Linked DNA regions of Homo sapiens: region 1 is linked to region 2. A link means that fine-mapping ties the variant in region 2 to the expression of a gene that starts in the linked region. Tissue or cell type: monocytes after R848. Region 2 holds a variant in brackets; the other region holds the start of a gene. All regions are shown on one strand. Distances are from middle to middle.

The links. PIP is the estimated chance that this variant, and not a neighbour inherited with it, causes the effect.
Region 1: CSNK1G1 starts here. The variant in region 2 is fine-mapped to the expression of CSNK1G1 in monocytes after R848 (Quach 2016, PIP 0.92).

The regions. Positions count from the first base shown.
Region 1 is chr15:64,352,305-64,360,304 of GRCh38, reverse strand. CSNK1G1 (casein kinase 1 gamma 1) reads left to right here and starts at 4,132. Exons shown (of 12, transcript NM_022048.5): 1 at 4,132-4,317. RefSeq lists silencers at 4,197-4,246, 4,357-4,416, 4,807-4,866.
Region 2 is chr15:64,150,394-64,158,636 of GRCh38, reverse strand. SNX22 (sorting nexin 22) reads right to left here and starts at 6,906. Exons shown (of 7, transcript NM_024798.3): 1 at 6,787-6,906; 2 at 6,311-6,394; 3 at 5,895-5,999; 4 at 5,298-5,392; 5 at 4,953-4,985; 6 at 4,635-4,702; 7 at 1,156-4,250. The coding sequence starts at 6,861. The coding sequence ends at 4,129. PPIB (peptidylprolyl isomerase B) reads left to right here. Exons shown (of 5, transcript NM_000942.5): 4 at 1,728-1,912; 5 at 2,492-2,820. The coding sequence ends at 2,614. RefSeq lists enhancers at 4,191-4,350, 4,361-4,480, 4,226-4,957, 4,981-5,210, 8,138-8,243 and silencers at 6,201-6,580, 6,781-7,220. The variant C/T (reference allele first, on the strand shown) is at 3,871.

The DNA.
Region 1 (8,000 bases), 200 kb before region 2:
GTTCATATTAAGTATATGGATTCATGGGCTGGGCGCGGTGGCTCACGCTTGTAATCCCAGCACTTTGGGAGTCTGAGGCGGGCGGATCACGAGGTCAGGAGATCGAGACCATCCTGGCTAACAAGGTGAAACCCCATCTCTACTAAAAATACAAAAAATTAGCCGGGCGTAGTGGTGGGCACCTGTAGTCCCAGCTACTCGGGAGGCTGAGGCAGGAGAATGGCGTGAACCCAGGAGGCGGAGCTTGCAGTGAGCCTACATCGCGCCACTGCACTCCAGCCTGGGCAACAGAGCGAGACTCCGTCTCAAAAAAAAAAAAAAAGAATATGGATTCATGGCCGGGTGTGGTAGTTCACACCTGTAATCCCAGCACTTTGGGAGGCTGAGGCCTCCAAGAGTTCAAGACCAGCCTGGGCAACAGAATGAGACCCCCTTCTCTACAAAAAATACAAAAATTAGCCAGGTGTGGTGGTTCACAGCTATAATCCCGGCACTTTGGGAGGCTGAGGCAAGCGGATTGCTTAAGCTCAGGAGTTCAAGACCAGCCTGGGCAACATAGTGAGATCCCATCTCTACAGAAAATACAAAAATTAGCTGGGTGTGGCTGCACACTGCATGCCTGTAGTGCCAGCTATTTGGGAGGCTGAGGTAGAAGGATCGCTTGAGCCTACGAGGTGAAGGCTGCAGTGAGCCAAGATTGTGCCTGCACTCCAGCCTGGGTGACAGAGTGAGACCCTGTCTAAAAAGAAAAAAAAAAAAGAGAGAGACTATGGATTCCCCACAAAAATTACAAAAGTGTAGTTAAACTCACATACCTAATTTTAGGTGGGGTTTGTACTATCTATCTTTAGAGATCTCAAAGCAATGAGTATGTTGAAAATAATAGAATAGAGGACATGTGATGAATTAGGAGTCAAGCCAGTTATTCATACACCTATACAAAAGTGCCTGGAGTTTTTAAAAAAGCTGTAGGAAGAGAGGATGTAAACAAATGCTGCTTATAAATCATTTTTCTTCAGGCAGTGGGTAAAATGAGTGATGCATAGGAATTTGCATTTCTACATTGGCTTACGCTATCACATTTAATCATAACTTGATTTTCTTAATAAAACATTTCTTTCTATAGAACACATTTATTATTTACCATAATCATGTTTTAATTTTTTGAAACATCCTAGTCTATCATAGTTTTAGATATATTGTTGTTCATTGAGCTCATTTTATTTACTATTTCAAAGTTTTTTGATATTTAAACCTGTTTGGCAATTGAAATACCAAGCTCTGTTTTGTCAGGGTAACATGTTTACCACTTGTCACTTTCAGCCAGGTTTTTTTTTTTTTTCTTGGAGACGGAGTCTTGCTCTGTCTCAGGCTGGAGTGCAATGGCACGATCTTGGCTCACTGCAACCTCAGCCTCCTGGGTTCAAGCGATTCTCCTGCCTCAGCCTCCCGAGTAGCTGGGATTACAGGCATCTGCCACCATGCCCGGCTAATTTTTTTTTTTTTTTTTTGATTTTTGGTAGAGATGGGGTTTCTCCATGTTGGCCAGGCTGGTCTCAAACTTCTGACCTCAGATGACCCACCCTCCTTGGCCTCCCAAAGTGCTGGGGTTACATGTGTGAGCCACTGCATCCCGCCCAGGTTTTTAAAGGAACAATTAGTGGATGAGCTGAAATTCCATTTGAATTGTGCATGTGTATATACTCCCACATGTATTCATGTCAATGGCAGAGGTGGAGATGTATTAAACATCCTATTGACCCATTTGAGTTTGAAGTGATTTCCTAAAGGTTTTGCTGAAGTGATTGCCTATGGTGAATCAATTTAACCCTGTCTCATGCATACAGGAAACCAATAGACGTGGTGTTTCGTTTAAGTGACCAAAGCTCATTTCCTCTCTGCCCCAGTTAAGGTGGATAACAGTTCAATTTTGGTGTCTATAAAGAGGTTATCATGACCAATAAAATTAGAGCCTGCCGTGGCAAGTATATTCACTGCCATGGAATAGAAAACAAATTTAGGAGCTACTGTTAAGCATTCTGCTTGTAAGAAGACCTATTTAAGATAGGAAAACCAAATGAAGATTTTTACTCATTTTTCTCTGAATGCCCAACTGCATTTCTCTGAATATTTTACCTGCCATAACGATATGGGTTCTTTTCCTTTTTTTTTTTTTTTTCTTTTTTCTGAAACGGAGTCTCGCTCTGTTGCCCAGGCTGGAGTGCAATGGCGCAATCTCGGCTCACTGCAACGTCTGCCTTCTGGGTTCAAATGATTCTCATGCCTCAGCCTCCCGAGTAGGTGGGATCACAGGTGCCCACCACCACGCCCAGCTAATTTTTCTATTTTTAATAGAGACAGGGTTTCACCAGTTTGGCCAGGCTGGTCTCGAACTCCTTACCTCAGGTGATCCTCAGGCCTCGGCTTCCCAAAGTGCTGAGATTACAGGCGTGAGCCACCGCACCCAGCCTCCAGATACGAGTTGTTTTTTTCGAGTATTACTTTGTTAACTTTTACCCCAACCATTCATTTTCCCAATATTTTCAAACCCCAAATCACCCAGACACAATAAATGAGGTCTCTTTTCTTATCCATAGTGTCGGTATGAAAGTTTATTTTGAAGGTTTTTTTTTTTTTTTTTAGACGGAGTCTAGCTCTGTCTCCATGCTGCAGGGCAGTGGCGCGGTCTCGGCTCACTGCAACCTCCGCCTCCCGGGTTCCCGCGATTCTCCTGCCTCAGTCTCCCGAGTAGCTGGGACTACAGGCACACGCCACCACGCCCAGCTAATTTTTGTTTGTTTGTTTATTTATTTATTATTATTTTTGAGACGGAGTCTCGCTCTGTCATCAGGCTGGAGTGCCATTGGAGTGCAATGGCACGATCTCGGCTCACTGCAATCTCCGCCTCCCGGGTTCAAGCAATTCCCCTGCTTCAGCCTCCCGTGTAACTGGGACTACAGGCACGTGCCACCACCCCCAGCCAATTTTTTGTATTTTAGTAGAGACGGGGTTTCACCATGTTGGCCAGGATGGTCTCCATCTCCTGACCTCGTGATCTGCCCGCCTCGGCCTCCCAAAGTGCTTACAGGAGGACTACAGGCGCGAGCCACCGCGCCCGGCCAATTTTTGTATTTTTAGTAGAGACGGAGTTTCACCATGTTGGCCAGGATGGTCTCCATCTCCTGACCTCGTGATCCGCCAGTCTCGGCTTCCCAAAGTGTTGGGATTACAGGTGTGAGCCACCGCACCCGGCATATTTTGAGTTTTGAGTGGAGGATTAGACAGTCTTCTTCCTTCCCAAATTTGATTATGGGCTCCCTTTAGCCTTTTTCTTTGTTTTCTGTCTTTTTTCCACCACCACCCCGCCCCCGAGGCGCAGTCTCAAGAGGTCCTGAGAACATGTGCCCTGCTCTCTGTTTTAAGGATTAAAATAACTGTCGAGTTACATTGAATCTTTTTTGCCTATTCCATTTGGCTAGGTTAATTCCAGACCTTACACAAACATGTGCAGCTCTTACAAAATGTAGGTGAAGACAACATTTTTCTAACCATTCGGCTTCATGGGCTGTCACAGGAGAACTAAGTGCATGAAAAACCTTTCACAACATTGAAAGAAATTTTAAAAATCTGGTTGAAACACAATTAAAAATCCACAAGAGGGAGATGCTTGCTAAACCGTCAGAAAATAATTCCCTCGAGGGACCTGAGAGAGGAGCCTGGAGCCTTAGGAACAGCCACTGGGTCAGCCACGGGATTAAGGGTGGGAGGGAGCAGGAGTATATAGAGACGGGGGCTTGGTGGAGGAGTACAGTTGAAGGGAAAAGCGGGATGGGTTTCGTGCCTCTGGCAGCGAAGCGTGTACTTGGTCTAAGATCTTGAGCAGAAGGTAAGAGCGTGTTGCCAAAGCAGAGCTCAGTGCTCCCGATATATCTTCTGGTAGTCCCAGAAGAAATGGGGGTGGGTTGCTTTGAAGGCACTTCCGCTTAGCAACCCCACGCGGTTGCTAAGGAGGGGGCAGCCGTGGGGATAACCCGGAAGTGATGGTGTCAGTTTAACGCTGCCTGCCCAAAGTTTGTCCTATTAGGCCCGCCAGGGTACTCTGCGACTCCGGGACGAGGGCGGGGCCGCGCTAGTGGTTCCGGTTCGGCTCCAGCCGCCCCTCGGCTCCTCGCCTTCCCCCTCCCGTCCGCCTTCTCCCCTCCCTCCCGCTCCTGGGAAAGAGAGAAACCACCGCTGCGGGTGGGTAGAGAAGCACTTGGCGCCTCGGGGAGGGGACCGCGCCCGCCTCATTTGCGCCTTGCAGCACTGCTGGACCAGGTATCTGCCCGGCTTCGTCGGGGTTCTGTAGGCTGAAGTCTGAGGGGGTGTGTGTGTGTCTGAGGGGGTTGGTGGGGGGCCCTTTCCTGGGCGTGGGTGGGGGACGCCGTGATCCCGGGTGGGGCGCAGGCTGGCGTTTGTGTCTGTGGAGGGTTGCGGGGGCGGAATGGAGGGGCTGAGGGACACAGCGGGTGGAGAGTTTCGGTTAGCGGGGTAGAGGTAGGCGGAGGAGGCGCCCCTTCCGAGAAACTGACTCTAGCCGGTGTGGACCGGGAGTTTGCCACCTGGAGGGCTTACTCTGAAAGGGGGAGCATCCCCCGGGAGCCAAAAGGAGGGCACAGATCTCGTCAGGGTGACTGGGGCTATCCCGTGCTTCCATTGCCCTCTTTCCCTACCCACCCCGCTGGGACAGAGCTGGACTTCGAAGGTTGTGGGGGTTCTGAGTCGACTGGGTACCGCGGGGAGCCGCCCTTGGCGGAGCTTAGGGCACAAGAGTGGGTAATGAGACTTTCCTCTACCCAACTTCCGTACGCTTCCCCCACTTCTTCCTTTACTGTTTCCTCGCCCCCACGTCCTACAGGAGCAATGTCCCCCAAGTGGGCAGGCATCACAATGTAAAAGAGAGTGGAACTGGGTTTGTTGCCCCTAAATGACACTTAAGATGTTTGGAAAGTGCCTGAATGACATATTCAACCAAGTCTCCCAGCTCGATATTAATTCCGGTATAAATTACCTTAGAAAAGTGGAATTCTGAAAAGCATTTAACAATAGGCTAGTCCAGGTGTAGTCTTGTGTAGTAGATGTACGTGTTTATTTAAAAAGAATGGACTGGGGAAACCATATAGATGTATCACAGGTCTAGGCAAGACATGTTGAGGCAAGGCTTTTGCAGCCTCTTTCTTACCTGCCAGTAAACCTGTCCTAATTTAAATGAAGTAGAAAGATCCTCTTCATTTTTGTTTCAATCAGTGACTGAATACTAGGTGCTGTGTAGTGATGTCTCAGAACAGATATGTGAATTTTCAGAGAGAGAATGAATGTTCTGCTGTTGAGCCTGTGTCTTAATCTTTTAAGGAGATAATTGCGGTCAAGTGGAAGTATTGACTTTCAGGCAGATAAATCTTGGGTTGAACCTAGACTATGCCAGTTGCTAGTTACTGACCTTGGGCAAGTCATGGAACCTACCAGAGCTTTTGTTTCTTCATAAGTAGTATGAGTTAAAATTCTTACCTGTATTATAAGTAACATCCCATTTTAAACGGAACCACCTTTGAATTAGAAGATAAATTATTACCATTAATCATACACAGTCAAGGCAGCCCAGTTTTGTGAAACGAGGTTTGAGATAGGAAAGCAACCGGATAATTTTGAAAAAAAAATGCATACAATAGGACTTTCAGTGTCTTCTCGAAATTGATCGTAGGTAGCATGAAATTCAGTTATCAGTAGTTTCTTAAAATTCAAAATAATAAAGTAGAATATGGCCCATTTATTGAAATGAGCAAAATATATTTTATAGATTTTTCTCAGCTACACCATATTGGTGTTTATAGTATGGATTAACACGAAATACATGAAAAAGTAATGTATGTAAATCTTAACATCACATGTCTCTTTAAAGAGAATTAAAATTGGGGTGTAAAATAGAAGGTACTTGTTTTTTGTTTGTTTGTTTGTTTGTTTGAGACAGAGTCTTGCTCTATCACCCAGGCTGGAGTGCAGTGGCACGATCTCGGCTCAGTGCAACCTCTACCTCCAGGATTCAAGCGATTCTCCTGCCTCAGCCTCCTGAGTAGCTGGGATCACAGGCGCCTGCCACTACACCCAGCTAATTTTTTGTATTTTTAGTAGAGAGAGGGTTTTACCATGTTGGTCAGGTTGGTCTTGAACTCCTGACCTTGTAATCCATCCGCCTTGGTCTCCCAAAGTGCTGGGATTACAGGTGTGAGCCACCGTGCCCGGCCTACTTGTAATTTTAAGATAAAAATCAGCAGCATCAGCAGCACCTCTCATCTCAGTTAGATTTATGCTACTAGAAAAACTTATATAATATTCAGAAAACAAAATCGAATACATTTCTGCCTTTAAATCATTCCTTATTACGATATAGAAATAAATCCAAGAAACATGAAGTCTGTTTTTTATTTATTTTTAGTGACAAGGTCTTTCTCTGTCACTTAGGCCAGAATGAATGCACTGGGGCAATTATACTCACTGCAGCCTCAAACTCCTGGGTTCAAGCAAACCTCCTGCGTCGCCCTCCCAAAGTGTTGAGATTACAGGTGTGAGCCACCTCACCCAGCCCATGAAGTCTTTTTCTTTCTTTTTTTTTTTTTTTTTTGAAATGGAGTCTCACTCTGTCACCCAGGCTGGAGTGTGGTGGCACGATCTCGGCTCACTGAAACCTCCACCTCCCAGGTTCAAGCAATTCTCCTGCCTCAGCCTCCTGAGTAGCTGGGATTACAGGCACATGCCACCACATCCAGCTAATTTTTTTGTATTTTTAGTAGAGACGAAGTGTCATCATGTTAGCCAGGATGGTGTCTATCTCCTGACCTCGTGATCCACCCGCCTCAGCCTCCCAAAGTGCTGGGATTACAGGCATGAGCCACCGTACCCGGCCAAAGTCTTTATACTCATTTGTTTTGTGGATTTAAAATAATATAGTTATGTGTCACCTATTATATGTCAGATTTTCAGCTAACGTAGTTTGCTTTTTGAGGTGACTTATAGTTAGTTATTTTCAAATGTAATTTATACTCAGAGGACAAAAATCAAATAACTTCCTGTAATAATAGATGTTTGTGAGAATACAAAGTTTGCAATTCAGTTTGACCTTTTTTGAGAAGTTCATAAGTTTTGTGTAAATTTGTGAGAAATTTTCTTTTCTTTTTTTTTAAAGACAGATTCTTGCTCTGTCACCTAGGCTGGAGTGCAGCAGCATAATCTCTGCTCATTGCAATCTCCGCCTGCTAAGTTCAAGCAGTTCTCGCACCTCAGCTTCCTGAGTAGCTGGAACTACAGGCGTGTGCCACCATGTCCAGCTAATTTTTGTGTTTTTAGTAGAGAAGGCGTTTTGCCATGTTGGCCAGGCAGGTCTCGAACTCCTGACCTCAAGTGATCCGCCAGCTTTGGCCTCCCAAAGTGCTGGGATTACAGGCATGAGCCAACACACCCAGCCCTGAGAAATTTTCAAATATATTTCTTCCCCATGTCTCTTTGTTTTATAAAGAGTTGAAATTAGGCCAGGCATGGTGGCTCATGCCTGTAATCCTAGCACCTTGGGAGGCCGAGGTGGGCGGATCACCTGAGGTCAGGAGTTTGAGACCAGCCTGAGCAACATGGAGAAACCCCATCTCTACTAAAAATACAACATTAGTCAGGCATGATGGAGCATGCCTGTAATCCCAGCTACTCGGGAGGCTGAGGCAAGAGAATCGCTTGAACCCGGGAGGTGGAGGTTGCGGTGAGCCAAGATTGTGCCATTCACTCCAGCCTGGGCAAGAGCAAAACTCCATCTCAAAAAAAAAAAAAAAAAAAGAAGAATTCAAATTATGTTTTGTGATAGTTACAGAGTTTTGGTAAGGTTATTTAGCTTTCTAAATGGCTCTTCTGAGAGTGTAAGGTCTGTATATATCTAAGCTTTCTGCTGTGTTTTCTTTTATCTTTTCACTTTTTTTTTG
Region 2 (8,243 bases):
GGCCTGCAGGGAGTCAGGGCCACAGAGCTGAGTAAGAGGATGACCCCTCACTTGGGGTGCCAGGGGAGTCATGTGGTGGCAGATCCAGGATGTGGAGGCTAGGGCAGGCAGGCTGCTGGGGGCATTGGTGCCACTGACCCTGGGCAGGGAGATTTGGACCTGATCCTGAGGTGGCTGAGAGCAGAGATTCGAGAGCAGACCACCTTGGTCTGAACTCTAGCCCCGCTGTTGCTCTGCTGGGGCTCCTTTTATTCTCTGTGCCTCAGTTTCTTCATCTTTGAAGTGGAGTTAGCTCCTCCTCATAGAGTGGATTGTTAAATATGTAAGATGCTTGGAACAGTCTCTGGCTCACACTATGAGCACCCTAAGCACTCGCCTACTGCAGCGGTGGTGGTGGGAATGGAAAGAAAGAGTAAGTACATGGGGAGTGGGTAGGGACAACCTGAGCCACGTGCAGAGGAAAAGGGGTCAAAAGAATAACTGAGGTCTGGAGAGAAAGATGACAAGGTATGTTGAGTTTAAATAGAAATGTCCATTTGAGTTTGGAACCCCTGTATCTTGAGAGAGTGGCTGGAGCTAAGGATGGAGATTTGGGGGTTTTCTGGATAACAACTATAATCAAAATCCCACAGTTGGCTCAAATGGGGGAGGCTTTTAGCCAGCACTCCAGCCAGGTCTCACTGCACATGTGGCAGAGTCCAGTCTCCCCAGCGTGGGGGTGAGAGGTGGAGCACAGGCAGAAGCACCCTGTCCCCACCAGCCAGAGTCTGGTCATTCTTGGTTTTCAGTCATCCTACCTGCTGCCCAATCAGAAACATCTTCCTGGTTGGCATCTGTCTAGGACAGTTTCCCAGCTCAGTTCCATTCTGTGGAACCACAGGATGAAGGTAGGTGCAGTGAGAAGGAAAAAAGAGTTTTGCATGCAAATATGTTTGAAAGGTGTTAGATAAAACAAAATGAAAATGACCCCATTTTTGGCTGAGTTTCTTGGGGCCTCATGCACAGTGTCAGTCTCCAAGGGGTGATAGGGAAAAAGAAGGGTTTCGGTGTTCCTCGTGGAAGCAGCTTTGGAACTAGGATCTCTGAAATGGCATAGAGATCACTCCGGATTGCCCTTACCATATCCCCAAGCCCCACGTGGACAGACGCGTCACACACACTCACAGCTGTCTTTTATTCCTGTTCATTCCTTGTTAAGAGGCTTTGACTCTCCAGAATCCAAGGGGCAGCCCCTCTTTTCTGCCCCTCCCCACACATCTCTGGCTGCTTTCTCCTCTGCAGCTATGCCTGTGTCTTTTGTGCTCATAGGAAAACAGGCTGGTCAGCCACAGCAGTCCTCCTTTTCTGGAGAGTTCCGACCCTGTTGACTCCCCTGCATCCTGCACGGCACTTCCCTCCACCAAAGTCCCTCCGTGGCAGGCCTGGGCCATAGCTAAGGGGAGCTGATAACATGCGCCTTATTTAAAAGCCACAAAACTATCTTCTCAAAGTAATCCTTCTGTGAGCTGTTCACCACATCAGCCTGGCCTGATGCCCCACTTGGCCTCAGTCAGCATGGCTTGGCTCTGAGGCCAGAAGATAGGAAGGACGCTGCTTTTATGTCCTTGTAGTCCACTCCAGCCTAGCCTGGCACAGAGGACAGGTTAAGCCCCCTCAGTCCTGGCCCCGAATGTCTGCTTGGTTTGGCGCAATCCAGCGCCCCTGACCTGCTCTGTCTTTTTTCCCAGGAAAGAGCATCTACGGTGAGCGCTTCCCCGATGAGAACTTCAAACTGAAGCACTACGGGCCTGGCTGGGTGAGCATGGCCAACGCAGGCAAAGACACCAACGGCTCCCAGTTCTTCATCACGACAGTCAAGACAGCCTGGCTAGATGGCAAGCATGTGGTGTTTGGCAAAGTTCTAGAGGGCATGGTGAGTTGTGGAAGCAAGGGCTACTACTGGGCAATCCTCACCGGGGATTCAACACAGACCCCAGGGCAGGAGCTCCATGTGTCCATCCCTTTCCCAAAAGGACCCAACCCACAGATGCAGCCCAGTGCTCCTGTCCAGAATAAACCCTGTACCTCCATGCCTCCAAGGTTCTAAATTCTTCCAGCCCCCTCAGAGCCCAGCCAGGAAGGCTGCACAACTGCCAGAGCCTCCCTCCCCTCCTTCACTCAGTGACGTGCTGGTCCCACCCCTGAGGTATACAGAGTGCAGCTGAACGCAATGTCCCTGAGAAGCCACATGCCCTGGTCACCCTCTTCCTCCTCCTCACCCTTGGCCCAACCTGGGTCTTACTTCAAAGGAACAAAATTCCTGTACCCCCTCGTCAAATCTGCATTCTCCCTGCTCTGGCCAGGAGTCTGTTAGAATTTTGGTGCCTCCAGTTTTGTGTGCTGTTGATCACTTGTGGGTCTTAGCCCTCCTGAGCCATACGCTGGGGCCTTTCTCCTGAGCGGTGGACCTCCTGATCCACCATGCCCTCCTGCTTCCACCTTTCTTTTCCAGGAGGTGGTGCGGAAGGTGGAGAGCACCAAGACAGACAGCCGGGATAAACCCCTGAAGGATGTGATCATCGCAGACTGCGGCAAGATCGAGGTGGAGAAGCCCTTTGCCATCGCCAAGGAGTAGGGCACAGGGACATCTTTCTTTGAGTGACCGTCTGTGCAGGCCCTGTAGTCCGCCACAGGGCTCTGAGCTGCACTGGCCCCGGTGCTGGCATCTGGTGGAGCGGACCCACTCCCCTCACATTCCACAGGCCCATGGACTCACTTTTGTAACAAACTCCTACCAACACTGACCAATAAAAAAAAATGTGGGTTTTTTTTTTTTTAATATATAATGTGTGGGCCTGGTTCTTGAGCCTGCAGCACCTCCCCTAGGCCTACATCCCAACATGCCTGCAACTCTCCTGTGGCAATGGGTGCCTGCCCCTTCCCTGGGATCCTGCCTGAAATTTTGACCCAGGAGCTACCCAGGAAAAGTCAGGCAGGAGCTTTTGCCCCCTGCTTCTAAACTTTGCCAGCTACTGGGCCTCCACATTTGCTCCCCTTGCCACCACCCTCCAGTCTATGTTAAGGGATGTATCTGTACTTTTTCATAGCCTACCTCTAAATTGATTTTTTTTTTTTTTTTTTTTTTTTGGTAGAGACAGGTCTCACTATGTTGCGCTGGCTGGTCTCAAACTTCCAGACCCAAGCATCCTCCTGCCTTGGCCTCCTAAAGTATTGGGATTACAGGCATGAGCCTCTGCACCCAGCTGACTTCTTCCTTTATTATTTATTTATTTTGAGACGGAGTTTCACTCTTGTTGCCCAGGCTGGAGTGCAGTGGCGCGATCTCGGCTCACCACAACTTCCGCCTCCTGGCTTCAAGAGATTCTCCTGCCTTGGGCCGAGCACGGTGGCTCACGCCCGTAATCCCAGCACTTTGGGAAGCCGAGGCGGGTGGATCACCTGACGTCAGGAGTACAAGACCAGCCTGGCCAACGTGGTGAAACCCATCTCTATTAAAAATACAAAAATTAGCCGGGCATGGTGGCGGATGCCTGTAATCCCAGCTACTCGAGAGGCTGAGGCAGGAGAATTGCTTGAACCCGGGAAGCGGGGGTTGCCGTGAGCCGAGATCGTGCCATTGCATTCCAGCCTGGGCAACAAGAGTGAAACTCCGTCTCAAAAAAAAAAAAAAAAAAAAAAAAGAGATTCTCCTACCTCAGCTTCCCGAGTAGCTGGGATTACAGGCATGCACCACCACAATGCCCGGCTAATTTTGTATTTTTAGTAGAGACGGGGTTTCTCCATGGTGGTCAGGCTGGTCTCGAACTCCTGACTTCAGGTGATCCACCCATCTTGGCCTCCCAAAGTGCTGGGATTACAGGCATGAGCCAC[C/T]GCGCCTGGCTGACTTCCTCTTTTATTACTTATCTTCTTGACCCTGCCTTGGCTGTTGGGCTCTAAGAGCATACAAATTCTACCACCTCCAGCTACCAATGCGAGCCAAGTTCTGAGCCTTGAGTGGGAATGTGGCACAACTGGGCACTGGGTAATTAAGTCCTGGGTCCAGGCCAAAGGAGGACCCAGCCTTATATGGAGTTCATAGGACAGAGGCACATGACTTTCTTAGGAGGCAGCCAAAGGCCTCTGGACTGATCAGGGCATCGGTGGCAGAGGAGCAGGGTGACAGGCCGCCTTTGGCTGGGCTTTATCTGGGCTGATGCTGAAGCTGTAGAGGCCCTGGAGCACACCATTCACCACCACGTTGGGCAGCGACTCTGTGGGATAGAATTAAACAGGTCTGGCCTCAGACCTGCAGCTCCTTGAGCTCCTGCTCATGGGCTCAGCCCCCACTTGGGAGTAGGAGCCCCTGCCAAGGCAGCAGACAGCAGCTGTCCACCCCAAATGAAGCCTCCGCATTCCCAGGTCACATTCTTTTCACATCAGCTTGGTAAAGAAGTCAGGCTGCTGAAGAAATGGAGACCAGGGAAGCCAAACTTGTTTTCCTTGTGTCTACAAAGCAGGCTCCAGGGGACAGGAGCAGGAGGTAGTGGCTCCAGAGGTGGGCAGCAGGAAGGAGATGCTGTCTGAGGGTCCCAGGAGCCGAGAAATGCAAAGCCCACAACCCAGCCCTGTAGCCCCATATCTAGGCACCTCCTCACCTGGGGAGGGGTTGCAAACATAGGGATCCACATGGAAGCTCAGGACAGGCCGCTGGTGCTGCTGGGAGCTGGGAGGAAACAGGGTCATGAACCATGGGTGCGGGAGGCAGGGCAGAATCCCACAGAGGGGTGGAGACGGGGTTGCCATCACCAGGGACCCATGAAGGAAAAGGTGAGTGGGAAATGGGCTCAGGAGGCACCAAAGGGAAAACAGACTTCAGGGCCCAGGCCAGACAGGCCCAGGCAGCAGGCCTGCCTCCTAGCATATGGCCACTAGGGGGCAGCAGGGGCCAAGCGCGGGCTAGGGCTTTGACTTGCCTGCTGTCGCCAGGCAGGAACTCCCTCAGGGTGCTGAAGAGAAGAGAAACACTGTAAGCTGCCTGGGGATGCCGGGGGAGCGTGAGGAAGGGGTGGAGACACCAGAGCCCAGAACTGCACCTCCCAGGGGACCACTGCTTCTATTTGTAACAAGCCCCAGTTCCGGAGGTGGCGGGGGTAACCAAGTCTGTCCAAAAAAAAGCCCCTCCACCCAGGTCAAGAGAGCTGGTGAGGGCGGTCATGCTGGATCCTGGCAGATGTGAAAAGAAAGGGCTTGCCCTCCAACACCTTTCCTCACCTGCTCACTGCTGACAGCCCCTGGCCCCCGCCATCGGCCCCCCTTACCCCCAGTTGCTAGCCTTGGGGTCTGTGGGGAAGTGCCGAAGTCTCAGGAATTCCAGTAACTCCTTGGGCACCTCCTGGTTCAGGTACAGGATGCCCTGGAGAGGACAGAGGAGACCTGCAATCAGACCCAGCTACTAATTTGCATAGCGCAGTGCCAGTGAAAATGCAGGGCTCTTTGTTCCAAAAAAAGAATTTCACGACAATGACAGCAGAGCGTTGAACCAGGCTCAGGGCCCTTCTGGGCGCTGGGCGCTGTGTGCACAGGTTGTACCCCATGACGCGGCATAGCTTTGCTGTTGGGGGAAGGACCCTCACCCTACATGCCATCAGGAGGGCAGCACAGGACCTCACCATGGAGGGGACAGGACCTGGGTTTCATGGAGCTGGGACTACCTGTGTCCGTTACCTCTTTCAGTCCTTTCAACAAGCCAGAGGGGGGTGTTTGGACCTATATTAGACTCAGAAAATTGATGCTTGAGGTGGTGAATAACATCCCCAAGTTGTGGGTTCCCTCCCTGCCATGCCCCCACACCTCTCTGTCTGGGCCACACCCCTGGCACAGAAGGCCGGGGGGCAACCAACTGTGCTCTCGCATACCTGGATGTAAGCCTCCAAGCCCTGCCGGCGCTGTTCCAACCCTCTGGTCCTCCAGTTGGGCAGGCGTTTCGAGGGGAAGTCGGGCACTTTGTACAGCTTCTTGATCTACTGGAGGTTTACCGCGTGCGATCACAGCATCCCGACTGAGCCCTCAAGCCCTCTTCGCCCCAGCCAGAAGCCCTCCCGCGCCCCCGCCTTCGGGCTCTACTGGGACAGACCCTGGTGAGTGGTGGACCGGCCGAGGGCGAGGAAGGCCCCAACCCACCCACAGAGGCCCGGGGGCTGACCGGCTGCGCAGGGACTGAGGCAGTAATGGGGGTGGCGGAGGCTGGGGCTCGCCCGCCCGCCTCACAGGGCCTGGGCGGGGGCTGGACAGAGGCTGGGCCGGGGCCGGTGGGAGGTCGGCGCCGCCTCACCCGCTTGTGCAGCGCGTGGAACTCGCTGTAGCGCCTTGGCACCGTGTGTCTGCGCCCGCTGCACAGCACCTCCACTCGGAACACCTGGCGGCGCGGGCGGGCAGCGGGTCTGCGCGTGAGGCCCCGCGGGAGGACGCCGCAGCACCTGCGCCTGGCGACGTGCCCACCCTCCCGCTCTCAAAGGCACAAAGCGGCCTTGCGGCGCCGCGGCTGCCCGGGGACTCTCCGCTCCCGCACACCTGGGAGAACCGGCTGGCGGACCTGCCCCTCGGAGCCCTGGGGTCCCTCAAGAGCTCGAACCATGGTCCGCGAGGCTGGCAAATCCAAGCGGCCCCCAAACCCTCGACAAGGTTTCCCCCGACGGTCCAGCCCGCAGCGCTCGTTCACCCAGGCCCGGGCCCCGGGTCCCCACTGAGCGCAGCGCGGGGAAATCCTGCGGGTCCCGGCGCCCCTCCCCATCCAGGGGCCGCGCTCACCATGTGGCTTTTCTCCGGGCTCTGCCTGGGCCCCTCGGCCTCGGGCCCCACCGACGGGATGTGAACTTCCAGCATCCGCGCCCCGGCCCCAGCTGCTCCGCGCGCTCGGCTCGGAGCCCTAACTCTCCCGGAGCGGACTGAGGACCCCGGGGCGGCCGGCTCCGCCCCCTCGGTCCGCAGGCCCCACCCCAGGCCCCGCCCCCAGGCGACCCCGCCCCGGGCGTTCCCTTGCGCCGCGGGTCCTGAGCCTAGAAGATTAGGCGGGACCTGGACGCCGCCCCCGAAGTCTAGTGCGCCCACAGCGCGGGGCAGTGGAGTCAACCGTTTGTCAAACATTGACGGAGCACTCACTGATGCCAGGAACTGGCGAGCGAAAATGTCACCCAACCTGAGTTAAGCGCCTACCAAGGACGGCCTGTGGCTCCAGGCGCGGACGGAGGCGGGGCCCGGGCCTCAGCGCCGGTCCTGGGGCCAACCAGGGACCTGTCTTGGGTTCCTCAGTCCCTTCCCGAGCCTTTCCCTCCTTTCAGCCTGGTCCCTGAAATTGTGATCTGGATTCCCCGGCTGAGGCCACACCTGAGCAAGGCTTGGACCCAGTCCAGCTTTGATGCCCCTTTCCCCAGCATCCACAGGCCCCCCCATTCATTCATTGTTTTCATCCATCCATTCACTCATATCTTCCAACCCTAAGGGGCTCCAGGCTGTTTGTGGGGAAGAGGCAGTTTAGGGACCTAGACTCCGATTTGGACGTCAGACTGCCTGGATTTCAGGAGCTCCGTAGACCTTTGCTCATCTGCAAAATAGGGATAACGTGGCTCCTTCAGGCAAGTGTATAAAGTGAGATGATTTGGCCGGGCGCGGTGGCTCACGCCTGTAATCCCAGCACTTTGGGAGGCCGAGGTAGGCGGATCACCTGAGGTCAGGAGTTCGAGACCAGCCTGACCAACATGGTGAAACCCCGTACCTACTAAAAATACAAAAATCAACCAGGTGTGGTGGCACATGCCTGTAATCCCAGCTACTCAGGAGGCTGAGGCGGGAGAATCACTTGAACCTGAGAGGCGGAGGTTGCAGTGAGCCGAGATCAAACCATTGCACTCCAGACTGGGCAACAGCAAGACTCTGTCTTAAAAAAAAAAAAAAGTGAGATGATTCATGTTAGGCCCTTAACAGAAGCATTGAGCAGCAGCTTGACTGTGGGCTTCTCCTGGATGACTAGGATAAGTGGGCACAGGGCAGTGGATGGGAAGAGAGACTTTGGGGGGTGGCACCGGGTTGCTCTTGTCCACCCCTCCGGGCAGGTTCTTCCTGGATATGTGGCAGGATTTTGATCCAGAACTCTCTCAGGCCATGTGCTGGAAAGGACCTCTGCTCCCACCTCTCAGCCCTGCACCCTTCAGCTGTCGGAGAGCTGCTATCAGCAGCACCATGGCAGGTCCTCTACTCCACTGACTTCC